Linked DNA regions of Homo sapiens. The protein of the gene in region 1 purifies or fractionates together with the protein of each later gene. This does not show direct contact. Each region holds a gene or a part of one and is shown in the gene's direction. Other genes may lie near its edges. The genes, in order: CLEC5A, TUBB1, CHCHD6, TSPAN6, CD276, PTRH2 and PIGU.

Region 1 (4,105 bases):
TGTGCATTGGGAAGATAGTTAGAAGAGTTTTAGAAAATAGTTAGAATACTAAGGATTTATGTTTAAGATGCTGAGTATCACGCTATTGAAATTACAAGCATTATCTTGCTCATTTCTCGGAACAATCCTATGTGGTATTTACTATAATTACTCCTATTTATAGATAAAGAAATGGAAGGTAAAGAGACTCAGTAACTTAATCAAGGATGTTCAGCTAGTGAAGGTCAGCTCCAGGAATCAAAAGCAGGACTGATTTTTAAAACTTTGTTCTTGTCCACCACACTTTACTAGAAGATTTGTGGTTATGCAATTGTTAAAGAAATAATATACTTTTACACCTGAATAAATAAATCATATAGTTTTACACCTGAATGCTATGCACATATTAAATAATACATTATCAAAATCTATATTTTGACATGAAAAGATATATATAACATAGTGTTAGCTTAATCTTGAGCAGATAGATTGCAAAACAATATGTACAATATGTTCCCATTGTTCTTTGTGAACCAGTGTTTTTCTGTCTATCTATCTATCTATCCATCTATCTTTCTATCTACCTACTCATCTCGAAAGGATACACCCTGAGGTGCTAGCAATGACTATAACTAAATGTACAAGGTTATAAATGGTTTTGTTTTCTCAATTTTCCTTGTTAATATTTTCCAGCCATTTTTTTGTCATGAGCACAGTAGTTTTCATAGTAGGGAAAATAAAAGCAAATTTTCAAATTTAACACGAAATTAAAAACTCCTTGACAATAGGACTTGAGTATTGTTCACCCCAGCCCACTGCTGTATCCAGCAGAGTGCCATGTTCAAGAAACACTGAAGAGCCACCATGAGGTCTGGAAGGTGAGCAGGTGGTGCCAGAGAGGAGTCCATGATAAAGGGGAATGAGCAGAGCTCCAGCAAATGGAGCAAATGGAACAGCAAGAACCTGCTCATTCATATTAGTGTCTTCAACTGGATTTCTTAACATTTTTAACTTGACATAATTTCAGACTTGCAGAAATGTTGTAAGGAAAGTACAAATAACTTCCAGCTACCTTTTATCCAGATTCAATGTTTGTTAAAATTTTACTACATTTCTCTTCCCACTGTATTTCAAGGAGATTTAGACACAGAGGAAGGGTGAATCTGTGTTGAGGTATTTTGTTTTCCAAATTGTCCTTAAAATGTTCCTCTGCATTAGAACTCTCCTGGCAGGAAGTCTGCTCTTGCCACCACTAGGGCTAGAGAGTCTCTTCCCTTCTTTGCCCCGCCTGCTCCCTTTGCCAAGAACCCCACTGAACAGGAAGAGGTATTTCTTGGGGATGCTACCAAGGCAGAGACTGTGAAGAAGGAAGAACGTTGCTTGGGCAAAAGGAGCATATTCTCAGGAGACGGGGCCCCTGCCTGCCACACCAAGCATTAGGCCACCAGGAAGACCCCCATCTGCAAGCAAGCCTAGCCTTCCAGGGAGAAAGAGGTGAGTCTGTCTGTCTGTCTTGGCTGCATGGACTGTTGACCAATGCCAAGACCTTCAGGGATGCCTGTCCTGTCTGTCACCTACCCCTGGTATTTGGAAGACTGAGGCTTCTGACAACTTAAGTCAGTATGGTGAAGGCTACAGACTAAGGTCCTTGGGAACAAGGGTCATTTCAAGGATAAGGGTTCTCAAAATACAGGAGAGGGTTTAATTATTAGACAGAATTTAGGAGGCCACAAATAGGGCAAGGCTGAGGCCTGGAGTAGGGAATGAGTGAAGGAGAGGCAGTATGCCAAGTTCCAAGGCTCCAATCAATACATGATTCTTTCTGTGTTCGCGGCCCACGCTGGGTCACCTCCTGGTACCTGTCAATGTCATGCCTGTCTTCCAAGCCTGCCTTGCTTTGGGTACTCTGAGCGAGAGGCTGGGATATGTCCTAGTGAAAAGCAGCCTTGTACCCGAATTCTGATGCTGCTGTGCTCTAATCTTCACAGGCCCCTGCAGCTCCTTCATCATGAACTGGCACATGATCATCTCTGGGCTTATTGTGGTAGTGCTTAAAGTTGTTGGAATGACCTTATTTCTACTTTATTGTGAGTATTTGAGCAACCTCTTGCCCCAGACTTCATGTTGTCTTGCTCATTGACTCTTCTCTCAGAATGCATGGTTGTGTGTAAAGGTTACATATCCAAGTCTTTCCACCTGAGACTAACTGACCCAACCTGAGGTCAATTGGCAATGCCTTTCTCACTCCCCAGCACACACAGTGGCCCAGGCTCCTTGGTCTACCTTGGAGATATAGAACTTACCAGTTTCTGATGGTTAGAACGCCACGCAAAGCTTTTGCTAGTAGAGTATTATTTGGGTGATCTCAGCTGAAGTACTTGGCAGCGCTTGTTATTGTTGGCAAAATCTAAAATACAGCTCCAGTTCAACCCAATGACAAGGCCATGGTAAGAGCTGAAGTATAATGTAACAGGATTTAACTGAGAAAGAAATTTCTCTTTGTATACATATAAATTAATTCATCCAAATGCCTAGTTAAAGAAGCCTCCTATGAAAGGATTTTACTGCAATCAGAAACTAGAATCTTCTCTAGCCCCAGAAGCCAGTAGGGAAAATAAATGAGGAAGGAAACGTGAGTGGGAGGCAGTAGTTAGCTAAGAGGTGTCTTCCTCATGATGCAATCTGAAGGTGCAATTCCTATCATGTCAGACAGCAGGACAGAAATATGAATAAGGGAACGTATTCACAAAACCACATTTATGCATCTTCACTGAGTCAGAGAGTTCAGTATTTCCCACTAATAGTCACAGTACCCTAGCAGCCCCTGTGCTGATACTTGTTTGTCATATTCATCATGCAGTCACATTTGGGGCTGAGCCAACAGCTGATTTTCTTTTCAGTCCCACAGATTTTTAACAAAAGTAACGATGGTTTCACCACCACCAGGAGCTATGGAACAGGTAATCTGCATGGTGGTAAATCTTCTCCCCATCCTCCTGCTACTTCTATGCTGAATTCCTAGAGACCTTCCACACAGCCTCCTTTCCCAAGAAATTCTTTTGTACAAAGGGTCCATAAAGATCTTCTAATTAATTCCCTTTCTTTTACATATGAGAAAACCAAGAGCAGACTGAGGGAAATTTCTGATCCTTAGTTTTTCTCCTGGATATGGGGATGATTTATATCTAATCATTGTAATAGAATGTGAAAGTGCTTAATAGCCAGTAGCTATGGGAGATAGAGAGATGAGTGGGGCATGGTTCTCCTCTCCCGATTAAACCAGCTTCCTTCTGAAGCCTTTCCCAACAACATCCTCTCACTTCCTCTTAAGACACCTATTACTACTGACATCGTTAGGAGAAAGACCGTTTCTCATTTATCTTAGTATCAACAGAGGCAACCCAATACAGTGAGCTGTATGGAGAAAATACTCATAAAATATGTATTGAGTCCTTAAGTTATAATCTCAAAGTAGTTTCTGATGAAAACCAGGCTATTACATCTTAGAGTCTATAAACGGGGTACTGAAATAAAAAGTGAATGCCAATTTGTTTCATTAAGATAAATGTAAGTAACTAATTTGATGTCAGAGTAAAGTGGTCTTCAACCACAATGGACAAATAACTGGCAGCCCAATTAGATGTTTGACCAGCCTCTGAAGCCACTGCGGCTGCCTGCTCAGACAGCCAGTGTTCCCAGGGAAATGAGGCCCCTATATGGATTTCTAGAAATGAATGGACCCTTCCCTGCTTATAGAAAATCTCCCTAAAGTTCACCTGCTTCCTTGTCTGATAATATCCCCTTGGCCCTGAAATTTTGTTCCAATTAGCTTCAATCCTTAGAGCTAATACAGTGCTGATGAGAAAAGAGTCCCAGAGTTGCCCAGGATTATGAATTTTCATACTGAATCTGGGACACCAGAAGTAGAAAGAACAGCAAAGATGCTGTGTGGAGCCTGGGCGAGAAGTACTCCAAACAGTCCTTTGGAGAAAACACTGTCAAAGGTTTATATACGATAGGAGTGTGAGAGTTTCTCTCTGATACTAAATTCCTCCATTACTTTTCCTTTCTTCTGTTCTTTTTCTCAGGATTTGATGCCTATGGCTACATCAAAAAAAGGAGACAT
Region 2 (2,363 bases), on another chromosome or scaffold:
ACTGTGAAATCAGATAAGAATTCAGTTTATTTTCCTTTAATGGAATCTACACTTTACTAGCTTGGAGCATTATAAGGAGAAATTAGAGCTATATTGACATTAAATTCTAAAACAACAGCTTTAATGTATATAATGGCATGAATTTAATAGGAGGAAAATCCAATTTAGTACTTTGTGTTTGACATTTTATTTAAGGAGTTCAGGTGGGGAGAAAATGCAATCTTCATATTACTTCACATTGCTTAGTAGAGGCAAAAAGCGAATGATGCCATGGTTATTTATGAAAAGGCCCTAAAAGAATGTCTTGGGGAGGGTCAGGCAACCAGAGGGAAACAGGCTTGGGAATGCTAACTTTCTCTGTGGTTAACACAGCCTTTTTCGGGGTCCGTTTACTCTGACCTTCCTCCTGCTTTCAGTTCTGGGAGATGATTGGTGAGGAACACGGGATCGACTTGGCTGGGAGCGACCGCGGGGCCTCGGCCTTGCAGCTGGAGAGAATCAGCGTGTACTACAACGAAGCCTACGGTAGGACTGGCGGGGCTCTGGGAGCAGTGGTCCCGCAACTGGGAACACAAGCAGAGGAAGGGCAGAGGCCCAGGAGATGGAAATGTCAAAGCAGTGATGTCTATGCTCAGGGAGGCGACAGGCAGGGCAGCAGGATCCTAGAGTGGTGGGTCCCCAAGCCCTGGTCAAGACGCAGGAATGGGGAAGGAGCTGCTGGATATGGCACACACCTTAACACAAGCAGGTTAAGTACTCACTTTCCTTTGTGGTTTCACAAATGAAACCAGGATCATTTCCAATATGAAGGAAGAGAATCTCTGTCACTGGCAATATCACAGAGCAGACTGATGGAGATTGTTTCTGGGTATTCTATAGATTTGTGGGATTGTTGTTGGGGTAAAAAATATGATGTTAGATACTCAAATCTCGACCTACCAAGGGCCCCTTTCTAGAATATCCATGATTTTTTTTGGACCAGTATCACAAAGTTCTATTTTGATAAAACATTAACTTTTAGAAAAACAAGTAGGCTGACTTTTTCCTATTTTTCTACACAGGTAGGAAATATGTGCCCCGAGCAGTCTTGGTGGACCTAGAACCTGGGACGATGGACAGCATTCGATCTAGCAAATTAGGAGCTCTCTTTCAACCCGACAGTTTTGTCCATGGTATGTTTTTCCAGAAGGTTCCACCAGGAGGAGGGGGGGATGCTTTACTGGTGCCCTTCTCTTTTCACCTTTCTTCCCCTGCTGGTTTCTCTTTTTGGCCACAGGTAACTCTGGGGCTGGCAACAACTGGGCCAAAGGCCACTACACGGAGGGAGCCGAGCTGATCGAGAATGTCCTAGAGGTGGTGAGGCACGAGAGTGAGAGCTGTGACTGCCTGCAGGGCTTCCAGATCGTCCACTCCCTGGGCGGGGGCACAGGCTCCGGGATGGGCACTCTGCTCATGAACAAGATTAGAGAGGAGTACCCGGACCGGATCATGAATTCCTTCAGCGTCATGCCTTCTCCCAAGGTGTCGGACACTGTGGTGGAGCCCTACAACGCGGTTCTGTCTATCCACCAGCTGATTGAGAATGCAGATGCCTGTTTCTGCATTGACAATGAGGCCCTCTATGACATCTGCTTCCGTACCCTGAAGCTGACGACACCCACCTATGGGGATCTCAACCACCTAGTGTCCTTGACCATGAGCGGCATAACCACCTCCCTCCGGTTCCCGGGTCAGCTCAACGCAGACCTGCGCAAGCTGGCGGTGAACATGGTCCCCTTCCCCCGCCTGCACTTCTTTATGCCCGGCTTTGCCCCACTCACGGCCCAGGGCAGCCAGCAGTACCGAGCCCTCTCCGTGGCCGAGCTCACCCAGCAGATGTTCGATGCCCGCAATACCATGGCTGCCTGTGACCTCCGCCGTGGCCGCTACCTCACAGTGGCCTGCATTTTCCGGGGCAAGATGTCCACCAAGGAAGTGGACCAGCAACTGCTCTCCGTGCAGACCAGGAACAGCAGCTGCTTTGTGGAGTGGATTCCCAACAACGTCAAGGTGGCTGTCTGCGACATCCCGCCCCGGGGGCTGAGCATGGCCGCCACCTTCATTGGCAACAACACGGCCATCCAAGAGATCTTTAATAGGGTCTCTGAGCATTTCTCAGCCATGTTCAAAAGGAAAGCTTTTGTGCACTGGTACACCAGCGAAGGGATGGACATAAACGAATTTGGGGAAGCTGAAAATAACATCCATGATTTGGTATCCGAGTACCAACAATTTCAAGATGCCAAAGCAGTTCTAGAGGAAGATGAAGAGGTCACGGAGGAGGCAGAAATGGAGCCAGAAGATAAGGGACATTAACTGTGAGA
Region 3 (3,500 bases), on another chromosome or scaffold:
CCACATTCTAAGATTTACTCTCCCTAATCGGTCTTAGCAAGAATAACTCACCTGGCCAGGTGTGGTGGCTCAATCCTGTAATCCCAGTGAATTTAGGAGGCTAAAGCAGGAGGATTGCTTGAAGTCAGGAGTTTGAGCCCAGTCTGGGCAACATAGTGAGACCCTGTCTCTACAAAAAAATTAAAAACGTTAACTGGGGGGTAGTAACACATGCCTGTAGTCCCAGCTGCTCAAGAGGCTGAGGTGGGAGGATTGCTTGAGCCCAGAAGTTGGAGTTTACAGTGAGTTATGATTGCACCACTGCACTCCAGCCTGGACCACATTGTGAGACCCAAAACCAAAAAAAAAAAAAAAAAAAAGAGGAAAAAAAGCCAACTATTAACCTGAACCCTGCTTTTTTGGTACTTTTAAACATTTTAAAAATGGTAAAGTAATGCCTGCTAATGAAAGATTTAGAAAATATACAAAGTGAAAAAATCACCCATAGACTCATCATCTCAAGACAACCACTGTTAATATTTTGGAGTATTTCATGTTCTTCTCCACCCAGTCCCCTCACCCCCCGTTTAGGGTTATTTTTTGAATGTCATAGATAATTTCATATCTTGCTATTTTCACTTAGTATTATAATGATTTGTCATTAGTTGCACCTGCTTTATAAGCAGTTTTATTGCTAAAAGCATTTATTGGTTCTCAGTTTTTAGATTCAACCTACAGACAAATGAAAGACTATTTTCTAGTGATGATGTCATAGATCATTATATGATCACACCATATTTTCTTTAGCTTGACCTTGATTTTGGGACATTTAGGTTGCTTGCATTTTTTTCACTACAATAAATAATACTGTTAAGAGCATCTCAGCACTAATAACTTTTTTATTCTCTATAGGATTATTTTACTAGGCAGAATGCCCAGAAATAGGTCAAAGGGTAGGAAGATATTCAGAATGAAGAGTTAAATGTTCAAAACAGAGGACTACTACCATCTCAAATCTTCAAGCTCTCAAGTGGAGGCAATCCGTGGATTGAGCCCCTCCCTGAGACTCTCACTGGGCATGGGGCTGCCTACTTGGCCAGGTCTCCTCCTGTTCCTGAGCTGTGTTGTCTTGGCTCAGTGTCATTGTCTCCTCTTGTCTGGGGAGCTGTCACTGATGCCTGAGCTTGGGTGTGGAATGATGGGGCATGCGGTTTCACAGCACTCTCTCCTTTCCTGACCAGCCGCTGGCTGGTTTCAGCATTTCCCTGGTGGCTGAAGTGAGTGCGCAGATCTTGTCTTGGCTATGGGCTGCCCGTCATGCCATCCACATCTGTTTCTCCTCATGTTTCTTCTGCACAGGTATGAACAGGAGCATGCTGCTATCCAGGATAAGCTCTTCCAGGTGGCAAAGAGGGAAAGAGAGGCTGCCACCAAGCACTCCAAGGCATCCCTGCCCACGGGCGAAGGCAGCATCAGCCATGAGGAGCAGAAGTCAGTCCGGCTGGTGAGTGCAGATTTTCCCTGATCTGGCCTTCTGAGCTGGGCAGCACCCTGGGAAATAGGGGGCGGGCCCTGGCACCTGGTTAGTCTGAAGCCCTGCTGGCTCAGGCTGCCCCTGGGATGTGCTCGGCTTCACCTCTGTGGAAAAGGGTCTTTTGGGAGCCAGGAACTGGGGTTCTCCCAGCCCTGGCTCTGTCAGTGATTTGCTTTGCTGCCTTTGGCATGTTTTTGCAGTCTCTGTGGCCTCAGGTCTACACAGTAAGGGACCAGACCACTCAACAGTCTCACTTAGCTCTGAAACTTCACAGATGTCAGGGCTGCAGTGGTATGTGTGTCAGGAGCGTGTGAGGGCAGAGGACTAGAGGCCTGGAGCCATGTAATATATGACAGGGAGGGCATCATCTTTAGAGTTAGGCAGGTTGGGTGCAAATCCTGGACACCCTGTCTGTGAGTCTTGCTTGAAGTTCGTGATGTTTACACACAGGACTGCCCAGGGAATCAGAGGAGATAGTATTTGTCCAGGACTTAGCACATGCTGGCAGACCATGGGAGTGCACTATTGTTGTTATCATTAATACATTTAAGTGATGGGTGGCTATTAGGATCTTTTTGCTTAAGTGCAGCATTTATTTTGCAACATGAGAAGTCTCAAGTGCCCCCAGGGTTGACTAATTCAGTGGCTCACTAGCATCATCATGGACCTGGTGCTTCTCTTCCTGCCACTCTGCCATCCACAGTGTGCCAGTGCATCCTAGGCAGGCTGTCCCCATGGTTAATGAAGGCTGTTACTGCCCCACAAGTCCCATGCAGACAGTAAAACCCTCAGTAGAAGAAGAGAGGCTGTGCCGACCCTTGTGTCTCTATCACAGGGATAACTTTCCTAGAAGCTCCTGGCAGAATTCCTCTTACATCACACTGGCTTGAATTGTACCAGGTGCCCATGGCTAAGCCAGTCCTCAGCAGAGGGGATACAGAGGGCTCCACTGACTGCAGCTAGGGCTCTTTTCTAGTCACATTAGGGAGGTTGCATATCCAGCTAGAATTAGGACTGACAGCAAGGAAGTTGGGGGAGGGAAGCATGGCTGTGGGCGGCATCTAATAACATCTGCTGGAGGCCATGAGGTTTGAGACCAGGAACAGCCTTGCACTACTTTAGGTGGGTAGCCTCGTACACACGGTGCTGTGTAGAAGGGGGTTGAACACGATGTGAAAGCATCATTTGGGATTGTGCTCTCCTGGGAGGCCAGACATGCTGGCTGGGCACAGGCCTTAGCTTACTAATTTGATGACTACACAAATGTTTGAAGTGTGCAGTAGGCACATAAATGCACTTTGAACCAGGCCCTCTGGGAAATACAAACAATGTAGGATCCTAGCCCTCGGGAAGTTTTAGTCTGTGGAGAAGACAAACTAAGAACTTTGAAAAAGGCCAGATTGGTTACAGTAGTTGTTAAATTGAAGAAAAGATTTGGAAATGCAAATGTATAAGCTGCTGGTGGATCAGAGCTGGTAGATCAGAGACGGCATTAAACTCAGCCTTAAGGCTGAGGGGCAGTTGGGCTGAGAGGCAGGTGTTGAGAAGGTGATCGGATCCAGTGAGAAGAGTGAGGTTTGAAGCTGGATTTTAGAAGGCCTTGGATGTGCTGAGGAGTTAACCCTCAAAGTAGCCCGCATCGATCCTGAAACAGTCAATGGTTCCTGAAGTTTGTAAGGATGGGAGTGATGAGATCTGACTTGTGCTTTTAGAACCCCATGGCATCCTGGTGAGGAATCGGTTGATGCAGTGAGAAACCGGGGCCAGGGCATGCCTTCAGAGGCTCTTGCAGTCAGTCTCTGAGAGGCAGATGGGTTGTTACCCCTCTGCAGGCAGCCTGACAACCAAGTAAGAAGGACCCCTATCCTGGAGATGACGCGTTAATCAGTATGGCATGAGCAGGAAAAGTTGGCCTCCTCTAGAGGTGGAAGATTACAACCTACAGGTCTGCTGTCTCTTCGTTCTCACCTGGAATGTATTAATTACA
Region 4 (3,500 bases), on another chromosome or scaffold:
ACATGTGCACCTGTTCTCTTCCTTCCCCACTTACATCATAGTCCAGGTACAGTTAGTACCAACTATAGCAGGAAAGTAAGGCCAATACAAAACTGTCATGCATGGTGCTAATCAGGGACCCAGTGCTCATCTCTTGAATCAATTGAGGAGAGAGATCATTGAGATTAGTAAATGTTTTGAGCACAAATTGCAATAGAGGATATTAGGTTAAATGTTTGACTACAAAGTTGTAATATAAACTGTAAATGCTTTTGTTGGGTTTTTCAGTTGCATTGTTGTGGTGTCACCGATTATAGAGATTGGACAGATACTAATTATTACTCAGAAAAAGGATTTCCTAAGAGTTGCTGTAAACTTGAAGATTGTACTCCACAGAGAGATGCAGACAAAGTAAACAATGAAGTAAGGTGCCTTTTAAAATTTTCTATTTGGCAATATTTGAAGACTTAACTGAATGCAAAATTGACCCAGTTTTTAATTTTTTTTTTGAGATAGAGTCTTGCTCTGTCGCCCAGGCTGGAGTGCAGTGGCGCGTTCTCGGCTCACTGCAAGCTCCGCCTTCCAGGTTCACGCCATTCTCCTGCCTCAGCCTCTCGAGTAGCTGGAACTACAGGTGCCCACCACCACGCCTGGCTAATTTTTTGTATTTTTTAGTAGAGACGGGGTTTCACTGTGTTAGCCAGGATGGTCTCAATCTCCTGACCTTGTGATCCACCTGACTTGGCCTCCCAAAGTGCTGGGATTACAGGCGTGAGCCACTGCACCTGGCCAGTTTTTAATTTTTAAATATAAGCTGAAATAGATAGGGCGGGTAAGAATTGAGTTCAGACGGCCAGCAAGTAACACTTTTTTGTTTATTTATTATTTAGTATTTTTTTTTAAAGACAGTGTCTCTCTCTGTCACCCAGTCTGAAGTACAGTGTTGTGATCATAGCTCACTGGAGCCTTGAACTCCTGGGTTCAAGTGAAGTAACACTTTTAAATATATAATCCAGAAGGTGGAAATAATTGGGAATAATTATTTGTTCTGTTGAGAACATATGGAAGAGAATAGATTTCAATAAAATGACAATCAAAGGCTATGATACATACATCTTTCTGCAGAGGTATATGATCAAAGTATTTATTACCATAAATATATCTTTCTGCAGAGTTATATGATCGAAGTATTTATTACCATAAAGAAAAGCACAGGCTGCTTGTGCTGTATTTAATCTTTGTTTTTTTCCTCCCATTAGGGTTGTTTTATAAAGGTGATGACCATTATAGAGTCAGAAATGGGAGTCGTTGCAGGAATTTCCTTTGGAGTTGCTTGCTTCCAAGTAAGTTTTTGTAGTTACTTAGGAAATATTTCATCCCTCTTGTAGGTGTAAGCTAGAAGATTTTCACTTTTTTTTTTTTGAGATGGAGTCTTGCTCGGTTGCCAGGCTGGAATGCAGTGGCGTCATCTCAGCTCCCTGCAACCTCCACTTCCTGGGTTCAAGCGATTCTCCCACCTCAGCCTCCTGAGTAGCTAGAATTACAGGTGTGCGCCACCATGCCTGGCTAATTTTTTTGTATTTTTAGTAGAGTTGGGGTTTCACCATGTTGGCCAGGCTGATCTTGAACACCTGACCTCAAGTGATCCGCCCTCCTCGGCCTCCCAAAGTGCTGGGATTACAGGCGTGAGCCACTGCATGCAGCGAGATTTTCACTTTTAAGGCTTATAAGTTTTTGCTTCAGGGGACTGGATAGTGAGGACATTTTTAGGGAAGTCGCATTTTCACAAAACTCTCAGTTACTGGTCACAGTATAAAAATACTTTATTTAGGAGAAATACCTAATGTAGATGATGGGTTGATGGGTGCAGCAAACCACCATGGCACGTGTATACCTATGTAACCTGCACGTTCTGCACATGTATCCCAGAACTTAAAGTATAATTAAAAAAAAGAAGAAAAAAAGTAAGATTTAGAATTAACTTGTAGCAGTGCATATCTTTTGAAAGCAGTTAACTGTGGAAAGACTCAGTGCCCTCTTAGTTATGGCAACTTTCCAGTATCATAGCTCATGAAACAAAACATTAGATAGGAACCTTGGTTCTCTCTGCGGTCAGTCAAGATTCTAAAATGTTATTAGGATCTTTTCTGGGCTGCAACTGCCTGATGAGTTGTATACAAGTTCCAACCTATTAAAATTTAGATGATGCCACCCCCACATTCCTTATGCACCAGTTGTTTGGGGTTGATTCCACGTTGTAGATCAAATTGTGTTTCCCAAGTTGTGTTTCCCACTGTAGCATGAAGTTTGTTTTGTGGCTCTGAACGTTTTTTTTTATATTAAACACTAGAAATAAGACTAATTCAAGTTTCGTCTTAATATATTTTTAAAGTAGTAAGCAAAGCTATATCTAAATCTATGCTAATGCAGTAGCCACTAGCCACCTTTGAATTGTTATAAATTATTAAATAAAATTAAAACCTCAGTTTGCTGGAGATTTGAAATACTTAGTAGCCATGTGGCTGCTGCCTACTATATCGGACAGTACAGGGATTCTAGAACATTTTCATTATTGTAGCATTGCTGTGGATCTTTCCAGGGAAATCTCTGCCCTCGTTGATGGAGATTTCACTTGTTAAGATACTTATTGAAAACCATGTATTTGTTTTTTCTGGGAAATGAGAGTAAGAAAAGTTTCTTCAAAACTCGTGACTGAATTTTCCTTGAGTGAGTTTGCTGGATTTTCCTTTGGTGAGAGTTGTGAAATTCTGGGTCACAGTGGCAATAAAACTTCACTTAGATTCTTTGAATGTGATCTAGATGCTGCAGAGTATTAAACATAACTCTAGAAAAACTCAAGGACGAAAATTATAAGCGAATTACAAGTGAGAGGAGAATATAGTCTGAGGTGTTCAAGTTCTTTTGTGTATGTATTTAATTTTGTTCCTATTTTATTTCTAGCTGATTGGAATCTTTCTCGCCTACTGCCTCTCTCGTGCCATAACAAATAACCAGTATGAGATAGTGTAACCCAATGTATCTGTGGGCCTATTCCTCTCTACCTTTAAGGTGCGTTCATTTTGGTCCTCAGCTCTGTTAGTGTTGATATTTATTCTAGCCTGTGTATGTGATGCATGGACTAAGTTTGCCAAGAACGTCTTGTCTAGTAATATATTTAAATCTAGCTGGTGCTATGTAAACCCTGTGTAGGCAGGTTAGGTCTCTATACACAGGGCATGGTCAGAAAGTAATGACTTAGCTACAGCTTATCTATGCATGCTCTCTACAGTTATGCAACAGAAGACTCCCCGTGTGGGTTTATATATTTACATACACATGTCAGCCTAAAGATCATAAGTGGTCCCTTTTTTAACATGTTTTGGCCTGGAGAGAGGAGAAACAAAGAATCCCAAGAATGACCTTATTCGTGAGGTTCCCTGGCAGGTGCACTCTGCTCCTCACCAATATTGACATTTTCCTTAGTCCTTTTCGTAGTTTTCATTTACCACAATCTTAATCAG
Region 5 (3,316 bases), on another chromosome or scaffold:
TGTCCCTGGCGCACAGTGGGTGGTTAGTAAATGTCCATAGTCATTATTGGGCCTATTGTTATAATGTCAGTGATGACATTTGGAAATACAGGAGATAGGTCATTTCCTTCCTGTTTTTCAGAATCAAATAACCATAGAAGAGCTGGGCAGATGGAGATAAAAAGTGTCAGCTTAGGCCAGGCATGGTACTTCACACCTGTAATCTCAGCACTTTGGGAGGCCGAGGTGGGTGGATCACTTGAGGTCAGGAGTTTGAGACCAGCCTGGCCAACATGGTGAAACCCTGTCTCTACTAAAAATACAAAACTTAGCCGGGCGTGGTGGTGCATGCCTGTAATCCCAGCTACTTGGGAAGCTGAGGCGGGAGAATCACTTGAACCTGGGAGGCAGAGGTTGCAGTGAACTGAGATTGCACCTGTGCACTCCAGCCTGGGCAACAGAGCAAGATTCCATCTCAAAAAAAAAAAAAAAAAAAAGTCAGCTTGGTTTTGAAGAGTTGCTGGAGAATGTGGCCTGGATGGGCAAACCAGTTTGCTTCCTAACCCTGCTCCTTGGTGAGGCAGCCTGCCCCCTCAGTCTCTGGCCATGCTGGACAACCACAGAGGCAGTGCCCAGATGGGGGAGCTCTTCTCCTCTCCCCAGGGACATACAGAGCCCCAAGAATGGGTGAGGGAGAGGGCAGGGGAAGGGCCCAAGCCCTTCTTCCCAAGTCTCCATTCAGCTTCAGATGCAGAGTGGGGTCTGAAAGATGAGTCTTTGGGATGGCCCTCCACATGGAGACAGGAAGCCCAAGGGAAGGAGGAGGGCCCCTGCCGTGTCACTCTCAGGGAAACCAGTGTGGAGGGGACACTGGGAAGGCTGCCTGCTGGACGAGGGAGTTGGGCCAGGCCTTGGAGGGTGGATGGGATGGACAAACAGGAGATGAGAAGGGAAAAGTGTTGCACGTAGAGGGAGAGTGGAGGGAAGTGTATCGGGCTGTGGGCCTGTGGGTACTGAGAGGGGGCTGCGTGAGGTGGTCCCCCTCAGGTGCCCCGGCGTGCCTGGCACCTGCATCTGTGTCTGGGCCTCCAGGGCCGTGGTCAGCACGGGGGCTGTCCGTTGGGCTGCTGTCTCACACACACTCCCCACTTGAAGTCTGACCAGGTGCTTGGGCTTCTGGCATAATCCCAAAAATAGATCTTCTGGCATCTAATGCTTTTCCCTTCCCTTTTTTTTCTTCCCATCATGAAATGAAGATGATGGACAAGAAATAGCCTGACCATGAGGACCAGGGAGCTGCTACCCCTCCCTACAGCTCCTACCCTCTGGCTGCAATGGGGCTGCACTGTGAGCCCTGCCCCCAACAGATGCATCCTGCTCTGACAGGTGGGCTCCTTCTCCAAAGGATGCGATACACAGACCACTGTGCAGCCTTATTTCTCCAATGGACATGATTCCCAAGTCATCCTGCTGCCTTTTTTCTTATAGACACAATGAACAGACCACCCACAACCTTAGTTCTCTAAGTCATCCTGCCTGCTGCCTTATTTCACAGTACATACATTTCTTAGGGACACAGTACACTGACCACATCACCACCCTCTTCTTCCAGTGCTGCGTGGACCATCTGGCTGCCTTTTTTCTCCAAAAGATGCAATATTCAGACTGACTGACCCCCTGCCTTATTTCACCAAAGACACGATGCATAGTCACCCCGGCCTTGTTTCTCCAATGGCCGTGATACACTAGTGATCATGTTCAGCCCTGCTTCCACCTGCATAGAATCTTTTCTTCTCAGACAGGGACAGTGCGGCCTCAACATCTCCTGGAGTCTAGAAGCTGTTTCCTTTCCCCTCCTTCCTCCTCTTGCTCTAGCCTTAATACTGGCCTTTTCCCTCCCTGCCCCAAGTGAAGACAGGGCACTCTGCGCCCACCACATGCACAGCTGTGCATGGAGACCTGCAGGTGCACGTGCTGGAACACGTGTGGTTCCCCCCTGGCCCAGCCTCCTCTGCAGTGCCCCTCTCCCCTGCCCATCCTCCCCACGGAAGCATGTGCTGGTCACACTGGTTCTCCAGGGGTCTGTGATGGGGCCCCTGGGGGTCAGCTTCTGTCCCTCTGCCTTCTCACCTCTTTGTTCCTTTCTTTTCATGTATCCATTCAGTTGATGTTTATTGAGCAACTACAGATGTCAGCACTGTGTTAGGTGCTGGGGGCCCTGCGTGGGAAGATAAAGTTCCTCCCTCAAGGACTCCCCATCCAGCTGGGAGACAGACAACTAACTACACTGCACCCTGCGGTTTGCAGGGGGCTCCTGCCTGGCTCCCTGCTCCACACCTCCTCTGTGGCTCAAGGCTTCCTGGATACCTCACCCCCATCCCACCCATAATTCTTACCCAGAGCATGGGGTTGGGGCGGAAACCTGGAGAGAGGGACATAGCCCCTCGCCACGGCTAGAGAATCTGGTGGTGTCCAAAATGTCTGTCCAGGTGTGGGCAGGTGGGCAGGCACCAAGGCCCTCTGGACCTTTCATAGCAGCAGAAAAGGCAGAGCCTGGGGCAGGGCAGGGCCAGGAATGCTTTGGGGACACCGAGGGGACTGCCCCCCACCCCCACCATGGTGCTATTCTGGGGCTGGGGCAGTCTTTTCCTGGCTTGCCTCTGGCCAGCTCCTGGCCTCTGGTAGAGTGAGACTTCAGACGTTCTGATGCCTTCCGGATGTCATCTCTCCCTGCCCCAGGAATGGAAGATGTGAGGACTTCTAATTTAAATGTGGGACTCGGAGGGATTTTGTAAACTGGGGGTATATTTTGGGGAAAATAAATGTCTTTGTAAAAAGCTTTTTCTCTGTGAAGTGTTTGGAAGCAGGGTGGGCCCCAGGACTCAACCAGCAGGATTCTCTCCTGGATGTTGCAGGCTGGGGTAGGGAAGCCTGGCCCTCCTTATCTCACCGTCCTTAAATCACTGGATCCCCAAGGCCATTTGGCTCCCTCCTTGGCTTCAGTTTCCCTCTGGGTAAAGTGAAGTTGGTTGTCCAGAAAGCCAGGCCCTTTGGTCACTGTATGGGGCTCCTCCCACTGGAAGCATCACTCAATTTCTTTGCCTCAGAAAACTCAAACCTAGGCTTGTTTAGGGCCTCTACTAATGAACCCATTTTAGAGACTGTGAAGCTGAGACCCAGTAAGAAGCTGGCACCAGGAAAAGAGTTCTGAATGCTGTTTCTGGCTGACTCAATTGGATGGGCACCAGGCCAGGGATCAGAGGTCCATTCCCAGGACATAGTTCTGCCCTATGACCCTGAGCAGGACATTTACCTTCTCTGAGCCTTGGCTTTCTTG
Region 6 (3,500 bases), on another chromosome or scaffold:
ATTTCCGCCTTTCTCTTCTCTACTCCATTTTAACTTCTGTCTGAGCTCCTTCCCTCAGGGGGAATACTTTCCTGCCTTCAAATCCGTGGACCTACTTGATTTAAAACTGAAATTGGGAAAGGTGTCCCTTTTCCTTTCCAAAACCACATCCCTTTATAAAGTCTTTCTCTATCTTGAGCATTTACCTGCCTTTCTTCTGGCTTCATCCTATTAACATTTAAATATGCTTATCCTTTCTTCTTAGGAGAAAAAAAAAATTGCTTTCCTCTGTGTCGCCTTATATCCATTGCTTTTTCTTTTTGCTCTATCTCTTGACCCCACCTCAAACGAATTTCTGCCCCACCAAAGACAGTAACCCCTTTTATGTTAAAATTAGTGGAAAGAATGTTAATATAATGCCCTAACTTTAAAGAAGAACATAAAGGAAATTTATAAGTACTTCCAGGGCTGTCATCTATGCCGTGCCAATCATGCAGTGCACAATTCCAAGGGCACCACTTTACATTACAAATACAGTGCATTACAAATATAGTGGCCCCATGTTTATAAATGCTTAGATAATACTCCACTAGAAAAAGAAACTGATAGTTGCTTGCCACATAGAAGCACTGTGAATCCAGCAGCCTCATTTGTAGACTGATATAAGTGTCTTATTGGTGACTCAAATATTATGAACAGCTTTGCCGAAGTAGCAAGATTTTCTAAAATAATAAAGGATGACATTCCTTTGTTTTATGATAGCTACACTTCTGGAAAATTCAGTATGGACAGTCTCCGACTTAGGATTTTTCAACTTTAGGATGGTGTGAAAGAGACACCCATTCAGTAGAAACTGTACTTCGAGTTTTGCATTTTGATCTTTTCCTGGCCTAGTGATAATGTGGTACAGTACACTCTTGTGATGCTGGGCAGCGGCAGCGAGCCACAGCTCCCAGTCACCCATGTGATCACGGGAATCAACAACCCATCCTCTACCGTGTACTGTGTTGTCAGCTTTTTTGGATATTGTGTTTTGTGTTTTCACATTCCATCATGTCTACAAAATGTCCATCAGTGTCTCCTGTTTCTGGTGAGATGAAGAAGAGGAAGGCAATTACTCTTGAAATGAAACTCAAGATAATTGCCCAGCATGAAGGTGGCAAGCCAGTAATGGCCATTGCACGTGAGTTAGGACTTTGGCAATCCACGATTTCAACCATCTTAAGGGATAAGAAGCAAATCAGTGATGCAGCGAAATCGTCAGCATCAGTTAAATCCACTGTCATCACAAAGAAAAGGGCTGGACCAATTGATGATATGGAAAAATTACTTGTTATGTGGATGGAAGACCAGATACAGAAGCGTATACCACTTAGCCTACTGATGATCCAGGCTAAGGCAAGAAGTCTTTTTAATATGCTAAAAGACCGTGCCAGTGATCCTACATATACACAAATGTTTAAAGCAAGTCATGGATGGTTCCAGCGCTTCAAAAGGCGTCATAATTTTCACAATGTAAAGATCACTGGTGAGGCAGCACGTGCTGGTAATGAAGGTGCCATAGCTTTTAAGGAACAGCTGCATAGGATAATTATGGCTAAAGATCTTTGCAATAAGGAGCTGATTGCACTGGAGGAAGAAAGAGGTAAAGGCGTTGAGGCAGTGGAAGAAGTTACACCCACGGCACCTAGAAAGTTCACAGCAAAGAAACTGGCAGAGGCATTTGCTGCTATCAGCAGTGGCCTACACGTTAGAAGAAATGGACGTCAATTACGAGAGATTCGCCACAGTTGACAGGCGCAGATACAGGATGCTCTTGCTTGCTACAGAGAAATATATAGTGAAAAGAAGAAACAAGCTGTACGGTCAAAACTTGGTATCTTCCTGAAGAACAACACTATGCTTGCTAAACCATCAACTAGTGTTGATGTCCCAATGCCTTCTACCACCTATTCTCGATGTTCATCAGAAGAGAGAGAAATTGAGGACCCTGTTGCATCCCCATCATCCAGCAATTAATTCTATTTCAGTGCTTCAAACATTTTTCAGGACCACTGTGCTTTCAGCTGTGTAAATTAATGGTGAGTACCCATACAACCATTGTTTTCCACTTACAGTATTCAATAAATTACAGGAGATATTCAACACTATTATAAAAGAGCCTCGTGTTAGATGATTTTTGTCCAACTGTAGGCTAATGTAAGTGTTCTGAGCACATTTAAGGTAGGCTAGGCTAAGTCATGATATTCTGTAGGTGTATTAAATGCATTTTTGGCTTACAGTATTTTCAATTAATTGGGTTAATTGGGATATAACCCCATGGAAAATTGAGGAGCACCTGTACATAGTAAAACTATGCAAAAAATATTTTGTGTTCTTAAGTAAAATGATGTTGAGTTCTCATCTCAGTTATTAAGTTTTTCAGCTGCACTCACGTCCAATGGGACAACTCTTCATTTTGTAAGGTTTTTAGCATCCTTGCTCAGGCTTAGTAAATTTCAGTAGTGCACCTCACTCCAGGCCCATTAATGTGACAGTGAGGTTCTTCTGAGGGTAACTGATTTGATACCATCTCCACTGAGAACCACTGCATTGTGAAAACACCGATTAGCACTGTATTCCAGGAAAGGGTTATTTTTGGTTTCTTTAAATCTTAGGCATCTTGGTAAAACGGAACATCTCCACAAGACTAAGGGAAGACTGAGGAATAGAGTTTTTGAACTTTATGCAACTTCGTTTACATCAAGATTCAAAATGACCTAAACTGTTTCATGTGGATGCTTGAATCTTTTCTAGTACACTGGTGGTGGGCAAGAGGGTGTTGGAAACAGGGTGCAGGCATAAGATCAAAGGTGTGTTTTGCCTTTTTTCTGGATGACCATTAAGTGTATAGTCAAAATGTTTCTCTGATAAGCCTATACCTCTGTAAGTTGTTACTGCCGGATAGTGATAACTGTTTTCCTTTCCTTTAAGATGCCCTCCAAATCCTTGGTTATGGAATATTTGGCTCATCCCAGTACACTCGGCTTGGCTGTTGGAGTTGCTTGTGGCATGTGCCTGGGCTGGAGCCTTCGAGTATGCTTTGGGATGCTCCCCAAAAGCAAGACGAGCAAGACACACACAGATACTGAAAGTGAAGCAAGCATCTTGGGAGACAGCGGGGAGTACAAGATGATTCTTGTGGTTCGAAATGACTTAAAGATGGGAAAAGGGAAAGTGGCTGCCCAGTGCTCTCATGCTGCTGTTTCAGCCTACAAGCAGATTCAAAGAAGAAATCCTGAAATGCTCAAACAATGGGAATACTGTGGCCAGCCCAAGGTGGTGGTCAAAGCTCCTGATGAAGAAACCCTGATTGCATTATTGGCCCATGCAAAAATGCTGGGACTGACTGTAAGTTTAATTCAAGATGCTGGACGTACTCAGATTGCACCAGGCTCTCAAACTGTCCTAGGGATTGGGCCAGGACCAGCAGACCTAATTGACAAAGTCACTGGTCACCTAAAACTTTACTAGGTGGACTT
Region 7 (3,500 bases), on another chromosome or scaffold:
TGAGCCACTGCGCCAAGCTTTTTTTGTTGTTGTTGTTTTTGAGATGGAGTCTCAGTCTGTTGCCCAGGCTGGAGTGTAGTGGCATGATCTTGGCTCACTGCAACCTCTGCCTCCCAGGTTCAAGCGATTCTTCTGCCTCAGCCTCCCAAGTAGCTGGGACTACAGGCACATGCCACCATGCCTGGCTAATTTTTGTATTTTTAGTAGACACGAGGTTTCACCATATTAGCCAGGCTGGTCTTGATCTCCTGACCTCGTGATCCGCCCGCCTTGGCCTCCCAAAGTGCTGGGATTACAGGCGTGAGCCACCACGCCCGGCCAAGCTGTATGAATTCTAACGTCAGTGTTTCCATCTGTAAAATAGGAAATTATGTATCCTGTTCAACGAGATAATCCATGTTGAAGCTCAACACAATAATGAAAGCCAAAAAGGTGAATTCTAAGGTTTTGAGTTGAGATATTAGGAAAAATAGTGCTGACATGGGCTGAAATAGATGAATCAGAAAGGACATAGTAGTGTTTCATGTGTGTATAATGTGATAGTACAATACTGACAGGTTTAGGTCTGGAGCTTGAGGCCAGTGTCAGGACTAGAAAGAGAGAGAGATTTGTTAACCACCCATCATCTGGATCTGACTAAATCAGCATGATTATTTGTATCATTTGGGAGGGAAGGTACAACATCTGTAAGCATTACTTTTCTTCAAAGGGTACCTTAAATGGGATATTTTTTAAAGCAGCTGATTATATAAACCCTAAAAGGCAGGAATTTAAAAATAGTAAAGTAGGACTCCTTCTGGTTTCACATGACATTTTACATTTTTTTTTTTTTTTTTTTTGAGACGGAGTCTCACTCTGTCACCCAGGCTGGAGTGCAGTGGTGCAATCTCAGCTCACTGCAAGCTCCGCCTCCCGGGTTTACGCCATTCTCCTGCCTCAGCCTCCCGAGTAGCTGGGACTACAGGCACCCGCCACCACACCCGGTTAATTTTTTGTATTTTTAGTAGAGACGGGGTTTCACCATGTTAGCCAGGATGGTCTCGATCTCCTGACCTCGTGATCCACCCGCCTCGGCCTTCCAAAGTGCTGGGATGACAGGCGTGAGCCACCACGCCGGGCTGACATTTTAAATTTTTGAATGATCAGTTCTTTGGGTAAAGGGGCCCTGGATCCAAATCCAAATAGATTTTGATTGGCTATAGTATGGACTGATTTTTTTTTTTTTTTTTTTTTTTTGAGAGACAGGGTCCCACTCTGTCTCCCAGGCTGGAGTGCAGCGGCATGATCATAATTCTCTGCAGCCTCATCCTTCTGGGCTCAAGAGATCCTCTTGACTCAGCCTCCCAAACAGCTGGGATTGGTGCATGCTCCCACACTTTGCTAATTGTTTTTTATTGTTTTTTGTAGAGATGGGGTCTCAATATATTGCCTAGGCTGGTCTTAAGCTCCTGGCCTCAAGCGATCCTTCTGCCTTGGCCTCCCAAAGTGCTGGGATTATAGGCATGAGCCACCATGCCTGACCTCTTTTTTTTTGAATAAGTGCAACGAAAGCTCTGGAATTAAGTCACATTGAACTGATTTGGGTCATATACCAATTCTTCGGTCAATTACTGTAGTCTGCCTGGGTCATGTATCTACCTCTTTGGAAAGGAGGCAGTCTCACCCAAAATGTACACAAGGGGGGTATCCCATAGGAAAAATTAGGGTGCTGTTACCAAAAGAAGGGAAGATTGATGTTGGGCAGGCACAAATAACATATCCATTTCAACAGGAAAAATATCTTTTCTGTTACCTATTTCTACAAATCCATCGGTTTATTTGATAGTGTAACTAAAATACATATAAATTTCCAGGCCGGGTTTTGTGGCTCATGCCTGTAATCCCAGCACTTTGGGAGGCCGAGGCGGGAGGATCACTTGAGCCCAGGAGTTTGAGACCAGCCTGGGCAACATGGCAAAACTCTGTCTCTACAAAAAAATACAAAAATTAGCTGGACATGTTTGGCCCATACCTGTAGTCTCAGCTACTCGGGACGCTAAGGCAGGAGGATTGCATGGGCCCGGGAGGCAGAGGTGGAGGGTGCAGTGAGCCGAGATCGTGCCACTGCATTCCATCCTAGGTGACAGAGTGAGACTCTGCCTTATAAAAAAAGAAAATTTTTTTTTTTTTGAGAAGGAGTTTCACTCTTGTTGCCCTGGCTGGAGTGCAATGGCACAATCTCAGCTCACTGAAACCTCTGCCTCTCAGGTTCAAACGATTCATTCTCCTGTCTTAGCCTCCTGAGTAGCTGAGATTACAGGCATGAGCCACCACACCTGGCTAATTTTGTGTTTTTAGTAGAGATGGGGTTTCACCATGTTAGTCAGTCTGGTCTCAAACTCCTGATCTCAGGTGATCCACCTGCCTTGGCCTCCCAAAGTGGTGGATTACAGGTGTGAGCCACTGCGCCCGGCCAAGAAATAAATTTTTAAGGAATGAATTTCCTGTTTGACAAAAGCAGGAGCTTCTAAAAAATTAATAAGAAATTAACAGGCTGGGCACGGTGGCTAACGCCTGTAATCCCAGCACTTGGGAGGCCGAGGTGGGTGGATCACCTGAGGTCAGGAGTTCGGGACTAGCCTGACCGACATGGAGAAACCCTGTCTCTACTAAAAAAATACAAAATTAGCCGGACGTGGTGGTGCATGACTGTAATCCCAGCTACTTGGGAGGTTGAGGCAGGAGAATCACTTGAACCCGGGGGGCAGAGGTTGCGGTGAGCCGAGATCGCGCCATTGCACTCCAGCCTGGGCAACGAGCAAAACTCCGTCTCAAAAAAAAAGGAAGAAGAAAAGAAAGAAATTAACAATGATATGATGCTTTTTACATGCCTGGTATTGTTCTAAGCACTTTAGGTGTGTTAATGCACTAATTTGATCTCTAAAATGGCAAACTGTTATCAACCCCATTTTATAAATGAGAAAATTGAGGCATGGAGAGATTAAGTCATTTGCCCAAGGTGACCTCGCTAATAATATTTTGTATGAAGAGCTAGCAATCTTTAGGTATGGCTGTTCCACCAGTATCATCTTGTTTAGATATCTGTCAGGAATAATGTTAGAAACTTTCTGCCATGTTTTAGTCTTTCCTGAGGCTTTCACCCAAAGATTGACAGTTCGTATAGGCTTAGCTTTTTGAGTTCAGGGTAGAGCCCAAGCTATTAGTACTTATCTAGAAACCCACCCCTACTACAGCTATGAGAATCAGGGTTGCTGGGCATGGTGGCTCAAGCCTGTAATCCCAGCACTTTGGCAGGCTGAGGTGGGCAGATCACTTGAGCTTAGGAGTTTGAGACCAGCCTGGATAACATGGTGAAACCCCACCTCTACAAAAAAGAAATACAAAAATTAGGTGGGTATGGTGGCGTGTGCCTGTAGTCCCAGCTACCTGGGAGACTGAGGTGGGAGGGTGGCTTGAGCCCAGGAGGTGGAGGCTGCAGTGAGCCAAGATTGCACCACTGC

The links.
Region 2: the proteins of CLEC5A (region 1) and TUBB1 purify together in Homo sapiens (affinity purification with mass spectrometry; 3 studies listed by BioGRID and IntAct, with this or other methods). This does not show direct contact.
Region 3: the proteins of CLEC5A (region 1) and CHCHD6 purify together in Homo sapiens (affinity purification with mass spectrometry; 3 studies listed by BioGRID and IntAct, with this or other methods). This does not show direct contact.
Region 4: the proteins of CLEC5A (region 1) and TSPAN6 purify together in Homo sapiens (affinity purification with mass spectrometry; 3 studies listed by BioGRID and IntAct, with this or other methods). This does not show direct contact.
Region 5: the proteins of CLEC5A (region 1) and CD276 purify together in Homo sapiens (affinity purification with mass spectrometry; 3 studies listed by BioGRID and IntAct, with this or other methods). This does not show direct contact.
Region 6: the proteins of CLEC5A (region 1) and PTRH2 purify together in Homo sapiens (affinity purification with mass spectrometry; 3 studies listed by BioGRID and IntAct, with this or other methods). This does not show direct contact.
Region 7: the proteins of CLEC5A (region 1) and PIGU purify together in Homo sapiens (affinity purification with mass spectrometry; 2 studies listed by BioGRID and IntAct, with this or other methods). This does not show direct contact.

What each region holds. Positions count from the first base shown.
Region 1 is NC_000007.14:141,944,175-141,948,279, reverse strand, and holds the start of CLEC5A (C-type lectin domain family 5 member A), read left to right. Parts: upstream 1-1,305; 5' UTR 1,306-1,473; intron 1,474-1,967; 5' UTR 1,968-1,987; coding exon 1,988-2,066; intron 2,067-2,879; coding exon 2,880-2,939; intron 2,940-4,105.
Region 2 is NC_000020.11:59,022,429-59,024,791, forward strand, and holds part of TUBB1 (tubulin beta-1 chain), read left to right. Parts: intron 1-416; coding exon 417-525; intron 526-1,061; coding exon 1,062-1,172; intron 1,173-1,276; coding exon 1,277-2,355; 3' UTR 2,356-2,363. UniProt on the Homo sapiens protein: Tubulin is the major constituent of microtubules, a cylinder consisting of laterally associated linear protofilaments composed of alpha- and beta-tubulin heterodimers.
Region 3 is NC_000003.12:126,731,740-126,735,239, forward strand, and holds part of CHCHD6 (MICOS complex subunit MIC25), read left to right. Parts: intron 1-1,338; coding exon 1,339-1,483; intron 1,484-3,500. UniProt on the Homo sapiens protein: Component of the MICOS complex, a large protein complex of the mitochondrial inner membrane that plays crucial roles in the maintenance of crista junctions, inner membrane architecture, and formation of contact sites to the outer membrane.
Region 4 is NC_000023.11:100,630,307-100,633,806, reverse strand, and holds part of TSPAN6 (tetraspanin-6), read left to right. Parts: intron 1-267; coding exon 268-402; intron 403-1,238; coding exon 1,239-1,322; intron 1,323-2,940; coding exon 2,941-3,009; 3' UTR 3,010-3,048; intron 3,049-3,500.
Region 5 is NC_000015.10:73,711,699-73,715,014, forward strand, and holds the end of CD276 (CD276 antigen isoform a precursor), read left to right. Parts: intron 1-1,235; coding exon 1,236-1,258; 3' UTR 1,259-2,816; downstream 2,817-3,316. UniProt on the Homo sapiens protein: May participate in the regulation of T-cell-mediated immune response. May play a protective role in tumor cells by inhibiting natural-killer mediated cell lysis as well as a role of marker for detection of neuroblastoma cells.
Region 6 is NC_000017.11:59,697,431-59,700,930, reverse strand, and holds part of PTRH2 (peptidyl-tRNA hydrolase 2, mitochondrial isoform b precursor), read left to right. Parts: intron 1-741; exon of another isoform or gene 742-2,057; coding exon of another isoform or gene 2,058-2,060; intron 2,061-2,952; coding exon 2,953-3,492; 3' UTR 3,493-3,500. UniProt on the Homo sapiens protein: Peptidyl-tRNA hydrolase which releases tRNAs from the ribosome during protein synthesis. Promotes caspase-independent apoptosis by regulating the function of two transcriptional regulators, AES and TLE1.
Region 7 is NC_000020.11:34,670,593-34,674,092, reverse strand, and holds part of PIGU (GPI-anchor transamidase component PIGU), read left to right. Parts: intron 1-3,500. UniProt on the Homo sapiens protein: Component of the glycosylphosphatidylinositol-anchor (GPI-anchor) transamidase (GPI-T) complex that catalyzes the formation of the linkage between a proprotein and a GPI-anchor and participates in GPI anchored protein biosynthesis.